Linked DNA regions of Homo sapiens. The protein of the gene in region 1 purifies or fractionates together with the protein of each later gene. This does not show direct contact. Each region holds a gene or a part of one and is shown in the gene's direction. Other genes may lie near its edges.

The links.
Region 2: the proteins of HTATSF1 (region 1) and ATL3 fractionate together in Homo sapiens (co-fractionation; one large-scale study listed by BioGRID). This does not show direct contact.
Region 3: the proteins of HTATSF1 (region 1) and AKAP8L purify together in Homo sapiens (tandem affinity purification; one large-scale study listed by IntAct). This does not show direct contact.
Region 4: the proteins of HTATSF1 (region 1) and PGK1 fractionate together in Homo sapiens (co-fractionation; one large-scale study listed by BioGRID). This does not show direct contact.
Region 5: the proteins of HTATSF1 (region 1) and SUPT5H purify together in Homo sapiens (affinity purification with western blotting; 2 studies listed by BioGRID, with this or other methods). This does not show direct contact.
Region 6: the proteins of HTATSF1 (region 1) and POP1 fractionate together in Homo sapiens (co-fractionation; one large-scale study listed by BioGRID). This does not show direct contact.
Region 7: the proteins of HTATSF1 (region 1) and NAF1 fractionate together in Homo sapiens (co-fractionation; one large-scale study listed by BioGRID). This does not show direct contact.

The regions. Positions count from the first base shown.
Region 1 is NC_000023.11:136,500,592-136,504,091, forward strand, and holds part of HTATSF1 (17S U2 SnRNP complex component HTATSF1), read left to right. Parts: intron 1-72; coding exon 73-227; intron 228-2,186; coding exon 2,187-2,350; intron 2,351-3,500. UniProt on the Homo sapiens protein: Component of the 17S U2 SnRNP complex of the spliceosome, a large ribonucleoprotein complex that removes introns from transcribed pre-mRNAs.
Region 2 is NC_000011.10:63,623,587-63,626,376, reverse strand, and holds the end of ATL3 (atlastin-3), read left to right. Parts: 3' UTR 1-2,290; downstream 2,291-2,790. UniProt on the Homo sapiens protein: Atlastin-3 (ATL3) is a membrane-anchored GTPase that mediates the GTP-dependent fusion of endoplasmic reticulum (ER) membranes, maintaining the continuous ER network. It facilitates the formation of three-way junctions where ER tubules intersect.
Region 3 is NC_000019.10:15,405,489-15,408,988, reverse strand, and holds part of AKAP8L (A-kinase anchor protein 8-like), read left to right. Parts: intron 1-3,500. UniProt on the Homo sapiens protein: Could play a role in constitutive transport element (CTE)-mediated gene expression by association with DHX9. Increases CTE-dependent nuclear unspliced mRNA export.
Region 4 is NC_000023.11:78,110,748-78,114,247, forward strand, and holds part of PGK1 (phosphoglycerate kinase 1), read left to right. Parts: intron 1-2,996; coding exon 2,997-3,152; intron 3,153-3,268; coding exon 3,269-3,413; intron 3,414-3,500. UniProt on the Homo sapiens protein: Catalyzes one of the two ATP producing reactions in the glycolytic pathway via the reversible conversion of 1,3-diphosphoglycerate to 3-phosphoglycerate.
Region 5 is NC_000019.10:39,455,582-39,459,081, forward strand, and holds part of SUPT5H (transcription elongation factor SPT5), read left to right. Parts: intron 1-2,093; coding exon 2,094-2,159; intron 2,160-2,712; coding exon 2,713-2,724; intron 2,725-3,236; coding exon 3,237-3,306; intron 3,307-3,423; coding exon 3,424-3,492; intron 3,493-3,500. UniProt on the Homo sapiens protein: Component of the DRB sensitivity-inducing factor complex (DSIF complex), which regulates mRNA processing and transcription elongation by RNA polymerase II.
Region 6 is NC_000008.11:98,123,793-98,127,292, forward strand, and holds part of POP1 (ribonucleases P/MRP protein subunit POP1), read left to right. Parts: intron 1-3,500. UniProt on the Homo sapiens protein: Component of ribonuclease P, a ribonucleoprotein complex that generates mature tRNA molecules by cleaving their 5'-ends. Also a component of the MRP ribonuclease complex, which cleaves pre-rRNA sequences.
Region 7 is NC_000004.12:163,128,891-163,132,390, reverse strand, and holds part of NAF1 (H/ACA ribonucleoprotein complex non-core subunit NAF1), read left to right. Parts: intron 1-3,042; coding exon 3,043-3,494; 3' UTR 3,495-3,500. UniProt on the Homo sapiens protein: RNA-binding protein required for the maturation of box H/ACA snoRNPs complex and ribosome biogenesis.

The DNA.
Region 1 (3,500 bases):
AATTGGTAGAATGCTAAGTAATTCACCTTCATTATCAATTATAAATGTTTTTTAATTTTTCTTAAATGACAGGTTTGCCTCCAGATATTACAGTGGATGAATTTATACAACTTATGTCCAAGTTTGGCATTATTATGAGAGATCCTCAGACAGAAGAATTTAAGGTCAAACTTTACAAAGATAATCAAGGAAATCTTAAAGGAGACGGTCTTTGCTGTTATTTGAAAGTAAGTTGTATGATCAAATAAGTTTCTTGTATCTTCGTTTTTAACTCAGGAACCAGGGCTATAATTTCTATAGATGATAACCAACACCAAGAACTGTTCAAAACAGGATATGAAGAAAACTGAAATTTCAGTTAGTACCTGTGTGTATCACATTGGTAAGATTATTCACTTGTTTTAAGAAAATATGTTATCAGGTAAAAGTATTATATAAGTATGCGACTGGAGTGCTTCTTCTGTCTTGAAAAATTCTCACTAGAAAGATTTTTTTATTGATGTGTACAGTCAATTCAGACTACATTTTAAAAATTCAAGAAGAAAAAAAGCCAGTAACATTTTAGTTGTCCATTGGAATGAATTACACCAGGGTTCAGCAAACTCGGGCTCTGTTTTGGTAAATACAGCTTTATGGAACACAGCCACACTAATTCATTTATGCATTTGTCTATGGTTGCCTTTGTGTTTCACTGATAGGGTTGAGTGGTTGCAGCACAGACCTTGTGGCCTACAAAGCCTAAAATATTTACGAACTGGCCCTTTAACAAAAGGATTTTTCTGACCCTTGAATTAGACCATGAAGGAGACGATAGCTTATTCTTACTGCTTTAAAATATTTTTTTGAATGTGAGAAAAGAGAGAGTGGTATTAAGAGAAATTTGCAGAACTTCATGTAGTCATAGTACCATAAATTACACAAAGAAACCTCAATGCCAGAGGCAGCCATCATTTCTGGAACACCTGCCACCTTAGGAGCATGTGTTATACATTATCACAGGGTACAGAACAAATGATGACATGTACATAAGTCAAACCTGGAAATAATTACAGAGTAAAGTCAAAATGGTAAAGCAAAAGTACAAACACCACAGGTGTGTTGTGAGTATACAGTATTCCAGTGAGATCAGAAGAGAGTAGGATTAAGCTGACAGCTTTTTGGGAAATAGGTTTTTGACCTGAATCTTAAACGTGATGGTTATGGGACATGAGCATGACCATTTTAGGATGGTAGTTTTGTAATGTTCAAATGTAAGGAGATTTGAGGGTTTTATAAGTTCTTTAAGGATTATTAAAAAATCTGCGAACAGATTCTTAGGGAGTTCTGTTAGATTTTTTAAATTTTTAAAGGAAAAAAATTGAGTTTTGAGACCCATAGAAGTACAAGATTGTCAAAACAGTAAATTGAGTTCCAGGAAAATATAGTGAATTATTCCAGGACCCATATATGTGAGCAGCTGAGTTCAGTTATCCATTTTTCTTTTCTACAGGTCCTCTGATCTTTGACTCTGTTTGTATAGGGCTGATAACTGTCCTTTCTCTAAGACCTGGAATCCATACATGTATTTAATATAAAGTACAAGTCATCAGATAATTGTCTTCTACTTCTCAGTGTATTACAGACTCACAATTTAATGGATGAACCAAAAAATTAAAGGCTGTCTATGGTGTTCCCAATTCCTTGAGTCATCTAGTCTTTTAAGTAAGAGTATTATAGAATTTTAAAAGAAATACACCTTAGAAATCATGCAGATTTGCTCCCTTCATTCTGCAAATGAGAAATTGTGGCCTCAAGAGACAAAATTACCCAATAATAATATTTATTGAACACCTACCATATGTTAGTCCTTATCCTTTCCATGCATTATTTCATTTAATTTTGTCAAGAACCTTGTGATGAAGGTATTAACTATTTCCATTCTACATACGACGATATTGGGGCTCAGGAAGCTTGAATAATTTACCCAAGTTCACACAGCCGGTTAGGGACAGCTGTGTCTCAGATGCGGGTTTCCTGGTTCAGATTCTAGAGTTCTTTATCTCAAAGAGAGAACGAGATCTCGTATATTCATAATATATAAATATAAGAATTTAAATTATTTTATGTATAATCATCGTTCATCTAAAAAACTCCTGAAGTTTTATTTCGTTGTATAACTGACTATATTTTGTCTTACATTTATAAAGAGAGAATCTGTGGAACTTGCATTAAAACTTTTGGATGAAGATGAAATTAGAGGCTACAAATTACATGTTGAGGTGGCAAAGTTTCAACTGAAGGGAGAATATGATGCCTCAAAGAAGAAGAAGAAGTGCAAAGACTATAAGAAGAAGCTGTCTATGCAACAAAAGTTTGTAATTTTTTTCCCTTTTGAAAGGTTCCATATATTCTAGAGTATATTTTTGGTAATAGCCATCTAGTTTTATTCTGTCAAGTGTGCCTACACATTATTTTAAAATAATTTCATTAGCTCATCAGGTACCTTTAGCAATCTATACAATAGGTTTAGATTTAGCAGTGGTGGGGATTTTAATTTTCCAGAGTGTCTATTTGTAATATAATAAGGGCTTAAATGAGCTAAGAGAAGCCATCTGTTTGGAAAACGTTGAACATCAAATTAAATAAGATAGTTTAGGCTTATGTACCAGAACCGTTTACTTCTGTGTGGATTGAAATCAGTGGTACCAGGAGCTAAATTTTTCTATACAGGTTTGTTATAGGAATTAGAAATGACAGGATTTTATAATTGTATTTACTGTAGTTGTATGTAGTATATACATAATGTCATCAAGTTTCTATTATTATTCTGTTTGTTTAATATACTTTGAAATATACTAGTTTTAAGAAATTAGTCAAAATGATAAATACTTTTATCAGAGTAAATTCTAATGACACTTCTAACACCATGCTTAAACTAATTAAATATCATAAAAGCATTTAGTTGTGATGTCTCATTGTTTTTACAAGTGTAGGTAAAATTGATAACCACATATTTTTTAAACAATATCAGTAAAATTTATGATTGTAACAGAGTTGAGTAGTTTTATGTATTTGAGTGCAGTTTGTTTTTTATAATGATAAAGTACCTAAAAACCAATACAATTTAAATATATTTTTTAGCCTCAAGGTATATCTTTCTGAACTCATAAATACTAAGAATTAGAGATTTTTCAAGGGTCTCATTGGAATGTTTGTATAATCAGACAACAGTTGCCCTGAAAAACATTTCATCTGGGGATTTCAGATACTGGGATCATTTTGCCTCTGCCTTTTATTTTATTTTATTTTATTTATTTGAGGCAAGAGTCTCACTCTGTCACACAGGCTGGAGTGCAGGGGTGCAATGTTGGCTCACTGCAACCTGTACCTCCGGGGTTCAAGCTATACTCATGCCTCAGCCTCCCCAGTAGCTGGGATTACAGACGTGCACCACCACGCCTGGCTGATTTTTGTATTTTTAGTAGAGATGGGGTTTCACCATGTTGGCCAGGCTGGTCTTG
Region 2 (2,790 bases), on another chromosome or scaffold:
ACAGAGGTCTCGCTCTGTCGCCCAGGTTGGAGTGCAGTGGTGCAATCTCGCTCACTGCAACCTCCACCTCCCAGGTTCAAGCGATTCTCCTGTCTCAGCTTCCTGAGTAGCTGGGACTACAGGTGTACACCACCACGCCTGGCTAATTTTTGTTTTTTTACTAGAGGTGGGGTTTTGCCATGTTGGCCAGGCTGGTCTCAAACTCCTGACCTCAGGTGATCCACTCCCCCCAGCCTCCCAAAGTGCTGGGATTACAGGCATGAGCCACCCCGCCCAGCTGAGTCATGCCTTATTTTCGTAGTATACCAAGAAATGTTCTATGGAAGTTTACGTTTTAACACCTCTTTTATACTTGGTAAAATTGCCTGTGTTTCGCTTTATTCCTTTTTTTTTTTGAGACGGACTCTTGTACTGTCACCCAGGCTGAAGTGCAGTGGCGCAATCTTGGCTCACTACAACCTCCGCCTCCTGGGTTCAAGTGATTCTTTTGCCTCAGCCTCCCAAGTAGCAGGGATTACAGGCATGTGCCACCACACCCGGCTTATTTTTGTATTTTTAGTAGAGACAGGGCTTCGCCATGTTGACCAGGCTGGTCTCAACTCCTCTGGGAATCCGCCTGTCTTGGCCTTCCAGGGTGCTGGGATTACAGGCGTGAGCCACTGGAACCTGGCCTTGTTTTGCTTTATTTTTTCTCTTACATGAAGTAAAGCGCTTTGGTCAAACACACAAAAATACTGCCTTGTACTGGTGGTTGGTTTCATTAGTGGATCACACACAGTGTTCTACTTGGCTTGTAAAATGGTGCCTTGGATAGGGTGAGTTTGGATAAGTATGTATGTATGTATGAGTTATAGCAAAATTAAGTAGATTGAATCAAGTCCATGCAAAAGCAATAAAACAGTTTTAATTTTTTAATTTTTTAAAAATTAAAACTTTAATAAAACAGTTTTTAATTTTTTGCTAGGTTCTTTTAAAAAATGATGTAACTTACATGGAAGTCTTCACAGGACTTTTTTCTTTCCTGGAACTATTGAAATGTAATTTAGGATGATTTGATCTTCCATCTCAAGTTGTCAACATGGCTGTGTCATTCTGGCTTACATATGTTTTATTTAACAAAATTCTAGTCAAGGGATAAGGGCATAATGAAGACAAGCTTCAGTTATGAAAGTACAAACTATTTGTGTGATTAATTTTTAAAAATGACATTAAGAAGCCCATTGTAAAATAATATTTGCAGTCAAATGGTTTTTCTTGCTGTAAGTCCTGTTGTAGCTATGTTTAGGGTAGTGGTTCTCATCTACCTTGGAGTGCATAAGACTTACCTAGCAGGCTTGTTTAAAAAGTTCAGATTCCTAGCTTTGTACCCAGGGATTGCCTCAGGTGGTATGGGCTGTGGTCCTGGAGTCATCACTTTTATAAATAGTGGTTCAGAGACCACAGAGAGAGACTGCTTCATCGAATGGGAAGTACCAAGGAGAAAGTACAATTCAGTATTGTCTGGAGGCAAGTGGACACTTTGTACCTGAGGTTTAGAATAGGTGGTCTCTTGCCAGTACAATCCCCAGGCGTTTTCTGTGTTCAGAAGTAGTAAGAATGCCTTTAATTCAGAGGATTATCTAAGCTCTTTAAAGCTGTTTTTCTCCATTGTCATAGTGCCTTCTCTGAAAAATGAATGTACAGGTATCCTATTTTCTAATGTAATTAGGATTTTTTAAAAGCAATTTTTGATAGTTTTTCTTTTAAAAAGTAAAATTCAGCACTGTGACTTGAACCCCCAAATCTTTCACATACAGGTGAAACATTAAGCCACAAATAAAAATAATGAACAAGAAAGAAGACAAGATCCTAATTCCTGTCATTAGTGACCTAAGTACCCCATATCAGAAACTTTGCAAAACAGATCTAGGGACAGAAGGGCTTTGAAAGACATTTTTCTTTGGGGCAAATTTCGTGTGCCAGAACTACAGTTTAAATGTTTTTATGAGCAAGGGAAGGTAGCATTGATTCCCATAGCTTTCTAATTAGATACATGCTGTCATGGATGTAAGCCTTAAAGGAGTTAATACTAATCTTGTACATACACAAATTTTCCTCAGGTTTTTTTATTTTAAAAAATGATTTGTTAAAAGTACTGTCTGCTAGACCCTTGCCTTTGAGTGGCTTTGAAACTTAATATAGTTTTTAAAAAGTGCAATGGGATGAGATTATGCTATTAGTATATTAAAAGCATGTTTCTGTTTTACTCCAATTTGTAAGATCATTTAATGGAATAAAGATCACAACACCATGTTATCTGTGTTTTCTTTCTCTGTGTTTTTAATATGGGAGGTTCTGTGAAATAGTTTGGCTTGGCAAAGTGAATAAGACTTCTGACGGGATAGTGGCAATGTGGTTTGAGTTAGCTTTCTCTGTCCTACAAAACGACACTGAACAAGTGTCTTACTAGCATAGTCCTGGAGAAGGCTCTATTGTTGGCAGGGTTGCTTAAAAGTGAGCACAAGGGCCAGGTGTCGTGGCTCACTCCTGTAATCAGCACTTTGGGAGGCTGAGGTGGGAGAAATGCTTGAGCCCAGGAATTTGAGACCAGCTTGGGCAACATATGGAGACACTTTCCACCTCTGTCTCTACAAAATAAAAGTGCATAGTGGCACCCACCTGTAGTCCTAGCTACTCGGGAGGCTGAGGCAGGATGATCACTTGAGCCCAAGAGTTTTGAGACCAGCTTGGGCAACATATGGAGACACCTTCCACCCCGTCTCTGGAAAAAACAAAAAACAAACCCAGGCA
Region 3 (3,500 bases), on another chromosome or scaffold:
ATAGGTTAAGGTTTCTTATTCTTCTATGGCATATAAATATATAATTGTTCCAGCACCATTTGTTTAAAAAACAAAAACAAAAACAAAACCATTTTTTCTTTCTTTTTTTTTTTTTTTGAGACAGAGTCTCACTCTGTCCCCCAGGCTGGAGTGCAGTGGCGCGATCTCAGCTCACTGCAAGCTCCGCCTCCTGGGTTCATGCCATTCTCCCGCTTCAGCCTCCCGAGCAGTTGCCCGCCACCACGCCTGGCTAATCTTTTTGTATTTTCAGTAGAGACGGGGTTTCACCGTATTTGCCAGGATGTTCTCGAGCTCCTGACCTCGTGATCCTCCCGCCTCGGCCTCCCAAAGTGTTGGGATTACAGGCGTGAGCCACCGCGCCCGGCCTCTTTCTTTCTTTCTTTCTTTCTTTTTTTTTTTTTTTTGAGATGGAGTTTCGCTCTTGTTGCCCAGGCTGGAGTGCAATGGCGCGATCTCAGCTCACCACAACCTCCACCTCCCAGATTCAAGCTATTCTTGTGCCTTGGCCTCCCAAATAGCTGGTATTACAGGCATGTGCCACCACGCCTGGCTAATTTTTGTATTATTAGTAGAGACGGTTTCACCACATTGGCCAGGCTGGTCTTGAATTCCCCATCTCAGGTGATCCACCCGCCTTGGCCTCCCAAAGTGCTAGGATTACAGGTGTGAGCCACTGTGCCAGGCCTATATTTTCTCTATTGAATTGCCTTCGTACCTTTACTGAAAATCAGTTGACCATATACTGTGGGTCTATTTCTGGACTCTTGGACTCTCATTCTGTTCCATTGGTCTGTACATCTAAATTTCGTTCAGCAGCACGGTCTTTTTGTATTTTTAGTAGAGACTGGTTTCACCATGTTGGCCAGGCTGGTCTCAAACTCCCGACCTCACATGATCCACCTGCCTCGGCCTCCCAAAGTGTTGGAATTACAGGCATTAGCCACTGCGCCTCGCCCAGCAATGCAGTCTTGATTACTGGTTAATAGTAATCTTGAAATATGAGTCCTCCAGGTTTGTTCTTTTTTCCAAAATTGTTAGTTTCTTTGCTTTTGCATATAAATTTTAGAATCAGTTTATGAAGTTTTTTAAAAAATTCATGCTGAGATTTTGAGTGAGAGAGCCTTGGATCTATAGATCTATCAAATCTGTAGAATCTATAGATTAGTTTGAGAAAATTGACATCTTAACAATATCAAGTCTTCTGATTCATGAGTGCAGTATGTCACTTCACTGATGTAGTGTTTTGTAGTTTTCAACACAGATCCTACACATACTTTGTTAGATTTACGCCAAGTTTTTCATGCTTTTAGTGCTATAGGAAATGGTACTTTTAAAAACTTTCCATTCATTGCTGATATATAGAAATTTGATTGCTATTTGATTTGTAGGTTTACCTTGTAATATTTGAAATTTGACTTACAGATTGACCTTGTAATAAACCTTGCTAAGCTCACTTATTCTAGTAGCTCTTTTGTAGATTTGTTTGAGATTTTTTTACATACACAATTGTGAAAGAATAGAGATGGATTTATTTTTCCTTCTGGCTTGAATTGCAAGAACAATATAACATTTAAATAACATTTTGAAAAACAGTCAACCAAGATCCTACCATATTAATGTTTAATTTTTATCAGCTTACTGATTTTGTGTAGTTTAATAATTTATAGGTGGATAGAATTGTGGGTACTGCTCTTATTTTATTTTATTTTTTTAAGATATGATCTCACTCTGTCCCCCAGGCTGGAGCACAGTGGCACAATTTCAGCTCACTGCAACCTCCACCTCCTGGGCACAGATAGCCCTCCCACCTCAGCCTCCTGCATAATTGGGACTACAGGCATGCCCTACCATGCCCAGCTATTTTTTGTATTTTTTCTAGAGATGGGGTTTTGCTATGTTGCCCAGGCTGGTCTCAAACTCCTGGGCTCAAGCGATCTGCCTGCCCCACTTCCCAAAAGGATTACAGGTGTGAGCCACTGCGCCTGGCTGGTCCTGCTTTATTTTATGTTAGAAGCATTTCCTTGTGCCACATAAGGCATAGTAAATTCTTTTTATATGCTTACATGATATGTCACCGAGTAGGTAGGTGTAATCTGATTAACTATTACGTTAAAGTTGAGTGTTAAATTGTTTTCTATTTTTGGTCCATAAATATCACATACTGTGACCATGTCCTTTTTTCTTTTAAAAATTATGTCCTTGGGGCCAGGTGCAGTGGCTCATGCCTATAATCTCAGCACTCTGAGAGGCTGAGATGGGAGGCTTGAGCCCCCAGGAGTTTGAGACCAGCCTGGGCAACATAGTAAAACCCTATCTCTACAAAAATAGAAAAAATTAGCTGGGCATGGTGGCACATGCCTGTTGTCCCAGCCACTCCGGAGGCTGAGGCAGAAGAGTCACTTGAACCCAAGAAGTCGAGGATGCAGTGAGCTGTGATCACACCATTACACTCCAGCCTGGAGGACAGAGCAAGACTCTATCTCAAAAATATATATGTACATATATCTTATTTTTACATATATATGTATATATTTAATAATAATAAATATATAAATTTTAAGGATCTCTCTCTCTCTCTCTCTCTCTCTCTCTCTCTCTCTCTCTCCTTAAAATTTCTTTTGTCAACCATGATCTCATCCCTTCTGGGGATGGAAATGAGTTGGGGTGTTCTTTCAGAAAGGGCAGGTCTTGGGGAGTCCCTAAACGCCAGTCTAGATGAAGGCTTCCTCCTGAAGGGACCCAGCTGGGATGTCCATCAAGGAGTCTGGGTTGCTCCAGGCATAGCAAGTGGCATGTAGTGAGTGTTTGCCTGGAGGGACTCCTGAGAGTTGCCCATCGTGGGAGGCCCTGCTTGTCCTTAAAACGTAAAGTGGTGTTCACGGAGTTGATGCTGCTTCCTTTCGTTGTGCCTCCTCACTCTGTTGTGGCAGATCCTCAGCAGGTGAAGCTTGCAGTGACCACATTGTAGCCTCCCAAGCAGAGCCCTGATGGATCTGCTTTTGCCTCCATATCCTATTTTCTTTTTCTTTTCTTTCTTTTTTTTTTTGAGACAGAGTCTCGCTCGGTCGCCTAGCCTGTAGTGCAGTGGTGCAATCTTGGCTCGCTGCAACCTCCACCTCCCAGGTTCAAGTGATTCTCCTGCCTCAGCCTCCCAAGCATCTGAGACCATAGACGCGCACCACCACACCTGGCTAATTTTTGTATTTTTAGTAGAGATGAGGTTTCACCATATTGGCCAGGCTGGTCTCGAACTCCTGACCTCGTAATCCACCCACCTTGGCCTCCCAAAGTTCTGGGATTACAGGCATGAGCCACCACGCCCAACTCCTATTTTCTTTAGAATAGCTAGTGCCCACTGTCCCTGGTACAAACAGTCACTTGGCCAGGTGTACAGTAGCTGCCTGGGCTACCTGTGTGTTGTTCTATTTTTTTTTTTTTGAAATGGAGTTTCACCGTGTCGCCCAGGCTGGAGTGCAGTG
Region 4 (3,500 bases), about 58 Mb from region 1:
CTCAGATAAGTCAATTTTTGAGAATTTTCATTTGTTTTTGCTTCCAAAAAAACAAACAGGAAAGACTTCAGAAGTACGTTTTCAGTCAGTTTAGCTGCTCCAGTGTCTTGGATCCTAGATTCAGAAACAAATTTTAAGTGAGAGTACTGCTCTTGCTTTTGACTAGATTATAAAAGGTCTTTATTTTTGTCTTTACTTTCTTTTTAATTTTTTTAATTTTTAATTTTTGTAGATTTTATATATATATATATATGGGTTACATGAGATATTTTGATAAAAGCATGCAATACATAATCACATCAGGTTAAATGGGGTATCCATCAAGAAGGTTTTTATTTAATTTTTTTTTTTTTTTGAGACAGGGCCTCGTTCTGTCGCCCAGGCTGGAGTGCAGTGGCACGATCTTGGCTCACTGCAATCTCTGCCTCCTGGGCTCAAGCGATCCTCCCATCTCAGCCTCCCAGGGAGCTGAGACCACAGGCGTGGGCCACCACACCTGGCTACTTTTTCATATTTTTTTTGTAGAGACAGCGTTTTGCCCTTTTGCCCAAGCTGGCCTTGAGCTCCTGGACCCCGCCCACCTTGGCCTCCCAAAGTGCTGGGAATACAGGCATGAGTCACTGTGCTCCGCCTATTTTAAATTTTAAATGAAGGGTTTGTGTTGGCAAGGTGCTTTCTAATGATCTAGACCAGTGGTATCTAATAGAAATACAATGTGAGCCAAATTGTGTTAATTAAATTAAAGGGACATTTAACTTTTTTGGTACTAAGTCTTCAAGATCTGGCATGTGTTTTTATACTACAGCACATCTCAATTTGATCTAGTTATATATCTGGTACTCAACAGACACACATGACTAAATGACTGTCGTAATGGACAGTGCAGGTCTAGCCCAGAACATTTTCAGGTATTGGTCCTAGAATAGAGCCTGTCATTTTGCCAAGCACATCCCTGCTGTACCATAGTGGCAGGGTCTTTGTATAAGGCAGATCTGATCCCGCTTGATCTTCATTATTGTGCAACACACAGAAACGATTGGAAATATGCCTATCAAGTTATTTTAAGAGTAAAGAAACATGTTTGGAAATCTTTTCATTTCCGGAAATCCATGGAGTTGATTAACAAAATGAAGCATTAGAAATAATAAAACTTGCTGATAAGGGATAGTCCTGAAAACTAATTGGTTCCATTGCACAAACTTTGTACCTGATACAGATTTTTAAATTTGATATAAAGGAGTTCTTATATCTGCTAAATATTAATAACATAAGATATTTTAAAAGTATAACTTTTTTAATCATTCCATTCTTTGCTCAGATGTCATCATATCAGACTTTCCCTGGCCATCCTGTCTAAAAATCTCCTCTACCATTGTTCCCCGGTCATTTTTGTCCTCAAAAGTAGGGGAACAAAAATGGGGAACAATGGTTTGTTTTTTTTCTGTATCTCACCATCTGATATATTACATGTACGCACACACACATACATGTTTATTGTCTCTCTCCATTAGAATTTCACTTCCATGAGAACAGAGAGTTTTTAAAAAAGTTTTCTGTTTCATTCTCAGAACCTGGAATGATGCCTGGCACAAAAGAAGCATTCAATAAATATTTGATGAATAAATAAATGCTTTTCTTGATCAATTTTAATTTCTTATAAACTGGCAAAATGGCAAGTTAGTAGCAGGTTTATAACAAAACTTTTAAATGTTTAAAGGGAGTTAATTTTTTGATTAATTTATAATGTAATGAATGTGATACATTATGGAAACCAAGCTCTAGACAGTGCAATTATTTTTTCCTACATAAAAAAGTGACTTAGGATCTATTAATAGGTGCAGAAAAGTTACTACATGTTTTTTATTTTTCCCCAAATTTCCTTTGATGGTTTCAAGATTTGAGAATTTTATGTATTTTCCATAGTCATATAAGAAGTGTTTTCAGGGGTCCCCAAGATCACCCACATATCTCATGATGATTTGCTAGGACTCAGAGTTGTTCTCATGGCTAAAGTTTATTACAGTGAAAGAATGCATGACAAGATTAGGAAGAGGAAAAGACATGGGGGAGTCTAGAGAAATCCATGGGCTTCCAGTTTCCTGTGAGGGGACACATCAAGTGTTTTCCTTTCTTCAGCAGTGAAAAATGCAGTAATTGTCTGCAGTGTTTCTGCCTGGAGAAGCATGCTAGAGACTCAGATCCCAAGATTTTTGTTGGGAACTGGTAACATAGGGATCCTCTGCCTAGCAACTACCAAAATTACAAACTTCTGCTGGGTGTGGTGGCTCACGCCTGTATTCCCAGCAGTTTGGGAGGCTGAGGCCTGCAGATAACTTGAGCCCAGGAGTTCAAGACCAGCCTGGACAACATGGTAAAACCCCTACAAAAAATACAAAAATTAGCTGGGCATGGTGGTGCATTCCTGTAGTTCCAGCTACTTGGGAGGCTGAGGTAGGAAGATGACCTAAGCCCCTGGGGAGGTTGAAGCTGCAGTGAGCTGAGATTGTGCCTCTCCACTCCAGCCTGTTGGGTGACAGAGTGAGACCCTGTCTCAACAAAAAAAGGAAAAGAAAAAAAAAATTCTAGACTTCTAGAGTGGGGCAGGTGTTCAGCATAAATCACCATGTTTGTATAGACGGTCTAGGAAGAGTGAATAGCCCTTGTTGGTCTTGTCAGTTAACTTTGAAAGCCAAGTTCCCAGATACCAGCCAGGATCTAATCTTGCAGACAGGTCCTTCTGTAGATAGTAGCCTCAGGCCTGCTGTGTTAACTCTTGTCTGTGAAAGGGGCAGATACATAATGAGATTGTACAATCCTAGGTGGAGGGTTGGCATTGCATTTAACTTCTTAAGGACCACCATTGAATTACTGATAGTAGATTTGAAGGAACTTGGAGAAGAAAAGGAGCTTTATGCTTTATGAGGTTATCAATAAGCTAGTTCCCACTAATTTCTAGGAGTAACTTCATTCTGTTTGTTGTCTCTCTTTGGTTGCAGGATTAAGGCTGCTGTCCCAAGCATCAAATTCTGCTTGGACAATGGAGCCAAGTCGGTAGTCCTTATGAGCCACCTAGGCCGGCCTGATGGTGTGCCCATGCCTGACAAGTACTCCTTAGAGCCAGTTGCTGTAGAACTCAAATCTCTGCTGGGCAAGTAAGTGCCAGGCTCTGGTGCTGGTAGACTTTGTGGCGGGGGAAGTTGTCAAGCACGTTGTTACTGGTTTTTAACTTTCATACTGCTCAAGTGTCTTCATCTCTTCCTCTTCTCAGGGATGTTCTGTTCTTGAAGGACTGTGTAGGCCCAGAAGTGGAGAAAGCCTGTGCCAACCCAGCTGCTGGGTCTGTCATCCTGCTGGAGAACCTCCGCTTTCATGTGGAGGAAGAAGGGAAGGGAAAAGATGCTTCTGGGAACAAGGTAGGACCTGTGATTTTGACATTATTGGGGGTGAGGGCCTGAGTCTGTAAGAGACTGTGGTTGAAGAATAGAGAAAGCTCATTTATT
Region 5 (3,500 bases), on another chromosome or scaffold:
CATAGTGGTGGCGGGGTGGATTACATGCATTTCTTTTCTTTTCTTCTTTTTTTTTTTTTGAGATGGAGTTTCGCTTTTTCACCCAGGCTGGGGTGCAGTGGTGCAATCTCAGCTCACTGCAACCTCCACCTTCTGGTTTCAAGTGCTTCTCCTGCCTCAGCTTCCCGAGTAGCTGGGATTACAGGTGCCTGCCACTACGCCCAGCTAATTTTTGTATTTTTAGTAGAGACAGGGTTTCACCATGTTGGCCAGGCTGGTCTCGAACTCCTGACCTCATGATCCACCCACCTTGGCCTCCCAAAGTACTGGGATTACAGGCGTGAACCACTGCGCCCCGCCTCTTCTTTTTTTTTTTTTTTTTTTTTTTAAGACGGAGTTTCTCTTGCCCACCCTGGAGTGCAGTGGTGTGATCTCGGCTCACTGCAACCTCTGCCTCCCGGATTCAAGGGATTCTCCTGTCTCAGCTTCCCGAGTAGCTGGGATTATAGGCGTGTGCCACTAATTTTTGTGTTTTTAGTAGAGACGGGGTTTCACCATGTTGGCCAGGCTGGTCTCGAACTCCTGACCTCAGGTGGTCCACCCATCTCGGCCTCCCAAAGTGCGGGGATTATAAGCATGAGCCATTGTGCCCAGACCTTTTTTTTTTCTTTTTTCTTTTTTTTTTTAAAGACAGGATCTCACTCCGTTTCCTAGGCTGGAGTTCAGTGGCATGATCATGGCTCACTGCAGCCTCTACCTCCCAGGTCCAAGTGATCCTCTCACCTCAGCCTCCTGAGTAGCTGGGACCACAGGTGTGCATCACCAGGCCTGACTAGACTGTTTTTTTTTGTTGTTGTTGTTGTTGTTGTTGTTTTTGAGACGGAGTTTCCCTCTGTTGCCCAGGCTGGAGTGCAGTGGTGTGATCTTGGCTCACTGCAACCTCCACCTCCCGGGTTCAAGCAATTCTCTGCCTCAGCCTCCCGAGTAGCTGGGATTACAGGCGCCCACCACCATACCTGACTAATTTTTTGTATTTTTAGTAGAGACGGGGGTTTCACCATGTTGGCCAGGCTGATCATGAGCTCCTGTCCTCATGATCCACCCGCCTCGGCCTCCCAAAGTGCTGGGATTACAGGCATGAGCCACCGTGCCCAACCCTAACTAATTTTTTAAGTTTTTGGATTTAGGAGGTCTCACTATGTTGCCCAGGCCGGTTTCAAACTCCTGGGCTCAAGTGATCTTCCCACTTCGGCCTCCCAAAGTGTTGAGATTACAGGTGTGAGCCACCACGTCCAGCCTTACATGGATTTCATATATGTACACAGATATCTCTAGGCAAGAAACTAGTCACGGAGTTGCCTTTGGGAGAGGTTACTGAGATTCTAGGGGTTAGAAATGTGAGGGAGACTTAATTGATACTTACATCCTCTATGGACATTGGAGTTTTTCATTATGTGCATGTATTACGTTTTTAGTGTAATGTTTGATACCTGCAAAGCAGTACATCCAACATGGTAAAGAGATTAAGTACATGGACCATGGAGCCAGACTGCCTCTCTCAGATCCCAGCTGAGTCTGTGGGCAAGTTCCTTAATCTCTCTGGGTCTCAGAGCCTTTGCTGTAAAATAGGAACAACGATAGTGCCTCCCTCGGGGTTGCCAGGAAGATCAGTGAGGAACCTGTGTCAGGTACTCAGAACAGGGCAGGGTGTATAGTATGCTCTCAGCATTAGCTGTTATAAATGTACAAGAATCATAAAACCAACAGACCATGAACCATCTTTTAAAAAACTATTTATTGATCATTTTCTGATAGTTGGGAGGGAACTTTTCTTTTTGCTTACTTTGATCTTAGTTTTTTAAAAGGGATTTGGGAGTGGAGTAAGGAGAGGGGATGACTTTTAGAGTTAGTTGGAGCTGTATGTCCCCCTCGATCCTGATGCGTGCACCAGCTCTGTGGCACGGCCCCAGACGAGTGCCTCCCTGTTGGAGCCTCAGTGTCCTGCTCTGTGCGGTGGGGATTTGTAGTGCACATCTCCCAGAGGAGATGCTTCGTGTCCTGGGAGCTGTTATGAGGTCACCTTTGCCACTTACCACTTGGCCTTTCCGTTTTAGATGTTGACGATGAGTATGAGGACGAGGACCAGTGGGAGGATGGAGCAGAGGACATTCTAGAGAAAGGTGTGTGTGAGCCCTGCCTCCACAAGACTACTGGGAAGAGGGTGGCTGAGAGGGTCTTCAGAGCCCATTCCCCCGACCCCCGCATCCCCTGTACACCCCAACTCCCACCGTCCTCACCTTGCTTCTTTCTGTCCTTCCCAGAGAGACCAGCTCCCTGCTTTTTCCTTTTAGGCCCATGAGTGGGGGGTGGGGCCCTGGGGTGGGGATGTTGTGGGGAGAGGACTCTGGGATCCCAGGGCCCAGTGAATCCCTTCTGGGGTTGTAGGGTGGGCGAGCTCTGTCCCAAGATACCCCCCACTTCCTGGGCCAGTGCCCCCCTTTCCCCGTTATTTTCCGTTCTGTGCGCCTCATACATTTCGGCTTCTCCCCAACCACCTGGTGCCTGGCCTTTACTTTTGGTTTTCAACCTTTCTGTGTCCCTCCCTTCCCCTCCCCCAACCCATTGGTTGATTTTGCTGCTATAATTTGGCTCATACTTTGTCTGCCCTCGCCCACCACCACCACCACCACCACCACCACCACCACCACCACCACCTCCTCTTCCTCCAAGTAGAAGAGATTGAAGGTAAGAATATGAAAAGTGTGATTCCCTGACCTTCCTCCCATATCCTGACATTTCCTCCTTCCTGAGGCACCTGCCCTCACCGGTAGCCTCCCCACCAGCCCCGGTCTGGCCCTGAGGGCTCTGACCCATGTAGGATCCAGAGTCAGGGAGTTCTGGGGCCAGGTATACCCCAGTTGTTGACCTGGGAAAGCACGGATGTGTCTGTCTGGGACTGAGCATTTGTGGGTGGTAGCGATGTGTGGGGTGGGGTGCAGTCCAGGGTGTGCCTGGACTTTGAGATGGGAACAGCTGGAAGCCCCCCAACTTGCTGGGCCCCATCCCCAGTCTTTTTGACAAGAAGCAGGATGCTGAGTAGGACAGAGTAGGGGATGAGGGGTTGGGATTTCCTCTGTGAGATGTCATCTTCCTGCCCCAGGGCCAAACCCTGGCCCTCTTAGCTGCACGCTCCTATTTTCTCCAGGCCCCTGCCCTCCACCTGCCCTTGCTCACGCCCTCTGCCCATTATTTTTCAGCCTCCAATATCGATAATGTTGTCCTGGATGAAGATCGTTCTGGGGCTCGCCGCCTGCAAAACCTCTGGAGGTGGGCAAGGAAGGGAAACGTGGTGGGATTGGCTCCTGTGGGGAGATTTGGGAGTAGGTCAGCCCACCTGCTGTCCTCAACCTTCAATTCGTGTTTGCTTCCCCACTCGTGCTCCAGGGACCAGCGAGAAGAAGAACTGGGCGAGTATTACATGAAGAAATACGCCAAGTCATCTGTGGGAGAGACGTAAGGGC
Region 6 (3,500 bases), on another chromosome or scaffold:
TACACATGATGCTCTCTCCACTCCCATTTTGATCAAATTGCTTTTGTCAGCTCTTTTGATAGTCATTATCTAAATAGTAAATGAGCTGAATTAAAAACAGATACAGTAGACCCTTATTATTTTTGAGTTTCCTATTTGCAAGTTTGCCTACTTGCCAAAGCTTATTTGTAACCCCAATATTAATACCCATGAAGCTTTGGCTATCATTTGTGGACATACATAGAGCAGGAAAAATTTGAGTTTCCCTGTGTTTACGTTCCCAGCCGAGCTTCCCAGCTGTCATGCAGAAATGGGCAGAGGATGGAGGCAGTATAAGGGCAGGGCAGTACAGTGCAGGAAGCTCCAGCTCTCCTGGGGTTTGAATCTCAGCCCTGGGGCAGCCTCATGCAGGTCACTTAGCATTTCTAGACTTCATTTTCTCTTTTGTAAAATAAAGGAAATAAACTCTACCAGGAGGAGTTGTTTTTTGGATTTAAGATTATAATATGGCCAGGGGCGGTGGCTCACACCTGTAATCCCAGCACTTTCAGAGGCTGAGGCGGGCGGATCACCTGAAGTCAGGAGTTCGAGACCAGAGTGGCCAACATGGCGAAACTCCGTCTCTACTAGAAATACAAAAATTAGCCAGACATGGTGGTGTGTGCCTGTAGTCCCTGCCACTTGGGAGGCTGAGGCAGGAGAATTGCTTGAACCGGGAGGTGGAGGTTGCAGTGAGCCAAGATCGTGCCACTGCACTCCAGCCTGGGTGACAGTGAGACTGTCCCAAAAAAAAGGAAAAAAAAAAAGATTATAATCTATGTGAGATGAAGATATGTATGTATCCCCACTAGGAGGAATGGTTCAGTATTCACTAATTCATTGACGTAATTCAGGGACGTATGAAACATGACTACTATAAATAATGAAAATTGGCTATGCATATTTTAGAGCTGGTATATTTTATTTCTACCTTAACATCAATGATTATTATACTTCTGTGTTTCCTAAGAGAAGTGCAGTATAGTCATCATATCTGTATTTCACTGGTGTGCTGATTTTAGAACCTTATGAAGTGATAGGAAGATCACAGTTGTTCATTAGGGCAGCGGTAGAAAGTGCTAATTTGGGAAGACAGCAAAAGCAAGTGTCCAAGGACTTGTTTGGAGTGCTTTAAAAAACTGCATTGGGTCTGATTAAGTAAATTTTAGAGTCAAGTTCATAAGGTCTAGATTCAGATCCTACAGTTGATGCCTACCATGCCATATGATAAGGCTTTCACATTTTTTTTATCTCATTTAAACCTCACAATGTTCTAAGATTTATAGTGGCTTAATAATTAACACCACAATTGAAATAAGCAGAAACACTATAAAATTCTCTACTGATCTCTCCCTTAATTTACAGACAGTTTTTTTTTTTTTTTTTTTTTTTTGAGGCAGAGTCTTGCTCTGTCACCCAGGCTGGAGTGCAATGGTGCGATCTCGGCTCACTGCAACCTCCACCTCCTGGGTTCAAGCGATTCTCCTGCCTCAGCCTCCTGAGTAGCTGAGACTACAGGCGTGTGCTGCCACTCTTGGCTAATTTTTGTATTTTTAGTAGAGACAGGGTTTCACCATATTGGCCATGCTGGTGTCAAACTCCTAACCTCAAGTGATCCACCTGCTTCGGCCTCCCAAAGTGCTGGGATTACAGGCGTGAGCCACTGTACCCGGCCACAGACAGATATTTAATGTTGTCTTATAGTCATAATGCCCAGACACTTGTATGGAAATGTTGCCTTTTTTTTGGAGATGGAGTCTTGCTCTGTTGCCTGGGCTGGAGTGCAGTGGTGCGATCTTGGCCCACTGCAACCTCTGCCTCCCGGGTTCAAGCAATTATCCTGCCTCAGCCTCCCGAGTAGCTGGGACTACAGTCACATGCTGCCACACCCAGCTAATTTTTTGTATTTAGTAGAGACGGGGTTTTACCATGTTGCCCAGGCTAGTCTTGAACTCCTGAGCTCAGGCAATCCACCCACCTTGGCCTCCCAAAGTGCTGGGATTACAGACATGAGCTACTGTGCCTGGCTGGAAATTTTGCTTTTTAAAGTTTTAAGACAGGATCCCACTCTGTCACCCATGCTGAAGGGTAATGGCACAATCGTGGCTCACTTCAACCTTGACCTCCTGGGCTCAGGTGATCCTCCCACCTCAGCTTCCCGAGTAACTGGGGCTACAAGCATGTGCCATTATGCCCAGCAAATTTTTTTTTTTTTTTTTGGTAGAGACAGGGTTTTGCCACGTTGACCAGTTAGTCTCAAACTCCTGGACTCAAGTGATCTGCCCACCTTGGCCTCTCAAAGTTCTGGGATTAGAGGTGTGAGCCACCACATCCATCCTGGAACTTTGCTTTTAGTTATTTATTTAGTATAGTGGCTCTCAATTTGAGTGTGGCAGAGAGTTAGGATAAAAGACTGTACACAATCATGTGGATTATAGTATTAAGGGAGTGTCGTTTGGGCTGCTGTAACAAAATACAGGTTGAGCATTCCTAATCCAAAAATCTGAAGTCTAAAATGCTCCAAAATCCAAAACTTTTTGAGCGCCGACATGACATGACAGGTGGAAAATTGCACATCCGACCTCATGTGATGGGTCACAGTCAGAATGAAGGCATATAACACACAGTTTATTCAGCATTCCCATGGGAAAAAAGATGTTCCCAGCCCCCTTCAGCTGTGATATAAATATTTCCAAGCACTCCCAGATTTCACCACGTAAGCACACCCACAAAGACAAATAAAATACATGTAATTTTTACTGTTAAATACTTACATGTGAGTAAGTGTAAGAAAGTGATTGCTTATCAGTAGCATATAGATTCAGAGTCAGGAAGGATGCTGATGCCAGCCAACCACAGATTGTCCACAGGGTGGCTGAGATAGTGGCACCTTTGCTTTCTGATGGTTCAAGTATACAATGTGCAAAAAGTTTCATGCACAAATTATTAAAAATATTGTATAAAATTACCTTCAGGCTGTGTATGATAAGGCGAAAGAAGTGTAATTGAATTTTGTCTTTAGACTTGTGTTCTATCCTCAAGATATCTCATTTTATATATATACGAATATTCCAAAATCCAAAAAAATTGGAATTTGATACACTTCTGGTCCCAGTTATTTCAGATGAGGGATACACAACCTGTATCTTACTGGGTAGCTTATAAATAACAAATGTATTTCTCACAGTTCTGAGGGCTGAAAAGTCCAAGATGAAGGAGCGGGCAGGTTTGGTGACTGGTGTGGGCCTGCCTTCTGGTTCATATACAGCACCTTTTCACTGGTTCTCACATGGTGGAAGGAGCGAGGGTCTCTGTGAGCACTCCTTTATAAGGATACTAATCTCATTCATGAAGGCTCTACCCTCATGACCTAATCGCCTCCTAAAGGCCCCACCTCCTAATACCATCACCTCGGGGGTTAGGATTTCAACACTGGAATTTTGGGGGACATAAGCATTCAGACCATAGCAGGGAGCTTAGAT
Region 7 (3,500 bases), on another chromosome or scaffold:
CTCTTCATTACAGAGTAACATTTCATGGCATGAATTTACCAGATTACCTAACCATTCATCCATTGAAGGACATCTAGGTTGTTTCCATTTTGGGGTTATTAGGAATAAAGCAGCTATAAATATTTATATACAGGTTTTTTGTGAAAAGAGGTTTTCATTTTTCTGGAATAAATGCCCAAGAGTATAATTGCTTGGTTGTATAATAGTTGCATTACATGTTTAGTTTCCTAAGAAACTACCATACTGTTCTTCAGCATGGCTATACCATTTTACATTTTTATCAGCGATGTATGAGTGACAATTTCTTTGCATTTTCTCCAGCATTTGGTGTTATCACTGTTTTTAATTTTGGCCATTCTGCTAGGTTTGTAGTGCTAATATAATTGTGGTTTTAATTTGCATTTTCCTAATGGCTAATGGCATTGAACATCTTTCCATGTGTTCATTTACTATCGGTATCTTCAGTGATATGTCAGTTCATTATCTTTTGCCAACTTTTAAATTGTATTGCTGGATTTTTACTGTCGAGTTACGAGAATTTAAAAATGTATATTTTAGATACTAGCTTTCTGTCAAATATTTGGTTCGTTCATGATTTGTTCTAGTCTGTAGTCTTTTCCTTCTTTTAAGATGGCCTTTTGCAATACTAAAGTTTTTAGTTTTGAGGAAAACTAATTTATCAATTTTGTTTATGGAATCTGAGAACTTCCTGCTTAGCTTTAGATCCTAATGATTTTCTTCTATTTTTTCCCTAAAAGTTTTGTAGTCTTCTGTTTTAAATTGTACACTTGTGATTCATTTTGAGTTAAATTTTGTATAGAATGTGAGGTTAGTCTTAAAATTGCGTGGAGTGATAACTCCTACTTTATTTCTCTTTTTCAAAATTATAATCGGTATTCTAGGTCCTTTACCTTTCAGTATAAATTTTAGAATCTTCTCTACATCAACAAATGTCTTGCTGAGGTTTTTTTGTTTTTGTTTTTGTTTTTGTCTGTTTTTTGAGATATTCTTGCTCTGTTGCCCAGGCTAGAATGCAGTGGTACAATCATAGCTCACTGTAACCTTGAACTTCTGAGCTTTTTTCTTTCATTCTCCTGATAGTATCTTTCGTGGAGCAGAAATTGTTAAGTTTAATGAAATTCAGCATATTGATTATTTCTTTCATGGGTCATGCCTTTGATGTCCTATCTAAGAAGTCATTATCTAAAAAGTCATTATTGGCCGAGCGCAGTGGCCCAATGCCTGTAATCCCAGCACTTTGGGAGGCCGAGGCAGGCAGATCAGGAAGTCAGGAGTTCAAGACCAGCCTGGTCAACATGGTGAAACCCCATCTCTACTAAAAATACAAAAATTAGCTGGGCATGGTGGCGCATTCCTACTTGGGAGGCTGAGGCAGGAGAATTGCGTCAGCTGGGACCCGGGCAGCGGAGGTTGCAGTGAGCTGAGATCGTGCCACTGCACTCCAGCCAGGGCTACAGAGCGAGACTCCGTCTCTAAAAAAAGAGTCATTATCAACCCAAGGTTGTCTAAATTTTCTTCTATGTTATCTTTTAGGAATTTTGTAATTCTGCATTTTACATTGAGGTCTGTGGTCCATTTTGAATTAATTCTTGTGAACGGTGTAAGGTTATTGTCTAGATTTATTCTTTTTGCATGTGGATGTCCAGGTGTTCCAGCCCCATTTGTTGAAAACACTACTTATGCTCTGTTGTATTGCTTTTGCTCCTTCGTTAAATATCCGTTTATTATGTTTATGTGGGTCTATTTTTGTATGTTTATGTGGGTCTATTTTTGTACCTTCTATTTTGTCCCATTGATTTATTTGTGTGTCCTTTCACCAGTACCACACTGCTGTGATTACTTAAACTTTATAATACGTCTTGAAGTTGGGTAGTTTCCGTCCTCCAGCTTTGTTCTTCTCCTTCAATATTGTTCCATTGAGTTTTTAATTTTGGTTATTGTAATGTTCAGTTCTAAAATTGCAATTTGTTCTTTATTTTATATCTTCTTTTTTTCCTAAAACTTTGTAATTTTAATTTTTTAGAATGTTCATAATATCTTGTTGAAGCATTTTTATGACTGCTTTAATACCTTTCATAATTCTAACATCTTTGTGACACCCTTGCTTGATTTATTTTTTTCATTGAATTTGAAGTCTTCCTGGTTCTTTTTGTGATGAGCAATTTTCTTTTATTGCAACCTGGGTATATTGAGTATTATATTACAAGACCATGGATCTTATGTAAATCTTCTGATTTAGCTGGGTTTGTTGTGATTGTTTCTTTGTCTTTTTAAAAATGCTACTCTGGCAGCGAAAGGAACAGGGTAGATTGAAGTCTAGGTATTCCTCTTAGCCTCTGTTGACACCTTTGGCCAAGGGGTGCCTTGTTACTGCTGGATGAGGGTAGAAGTTCTGACATCCCACGAGGTCTTATGCCTGGTAGGGACAGGAGTACTTTGTCACTCCTCCCCATATGGTATGCACTGACACCAGTGGAGGATGGCCTTGTTATCACTGGTTGGGGACAAAAATCCTAACTCTACTCCATCTTCTCTGACATTGCCCCAGTGTAAAAGAGGGAAGAACACTGGGTTGCCGCCAGTGGAGGTGGAAGTTCAGGTTCCCCATGTGATGTTCATTGTTTGCAGGGAGGCTTGTTACTGGCACCCTGTTCAGCCTGTTCCTGATGCTACTGTGGTGGAAGGGTTGGAGTACCTCATTACTGCCTGTCAAGGATAGAAGTCTAGGATCTGTACTCAGCCTTTGAGAGTGTGTAGGGATGGTGCCACATTTTCTTCTGTGGTGTTTGGCTAGAGTAGAATGGTTATCATCTAAGTGTTTTCTGACTTGCTGGGTTCTCTTTCTTTGGCATTAAGTTTTGTCTTTTCAGTTCATTTCAAATTTACCATTTTATGTCTTACACTTTTTTAACTGCCACAAGATATACTGGATAATAAAAATCATAATTGAAATTTCAAACAATGCTTTTTGATATATTAAACTTATTTTCCTTTTTATGTTTTCCCTCCCCTCACTCAAAGGTGAAGATTTTACTGAAGTACATCAGAATTGGAATGCTCATAGCTCTGCTTCAGAGCATGCAAAAGGATATCGTAACAGAGAATTCACACGAGGATTTTCCAGGGCCAGATACCCTCGATCTTGCCATGGCAGGCCTCCACCTCAGCATTTCTATAACTCAGAACATATGGTATCTCAGGAGACTTCAGGATTTCCTTCTCAGAGACAAAATAATCCCATTATGCCACAATACCCCTTTCCTCTTCCAGTGTTTGACATGCATAATTTTCCCCTCCGCCCTCCACCCCCACCACCACCCCCACCTGTAAACATGGGTTGGGCTACACCAAACATGGCTGCTCATCCATTACTTAACTTACCATACTCCCTACCCCCACCCCCTCCCCCTCCACCACTGCCTCCTCCACCCTCTTCTGGAGATAGTAATTCTCATTTTGGACCTTACTATTAGGTGACT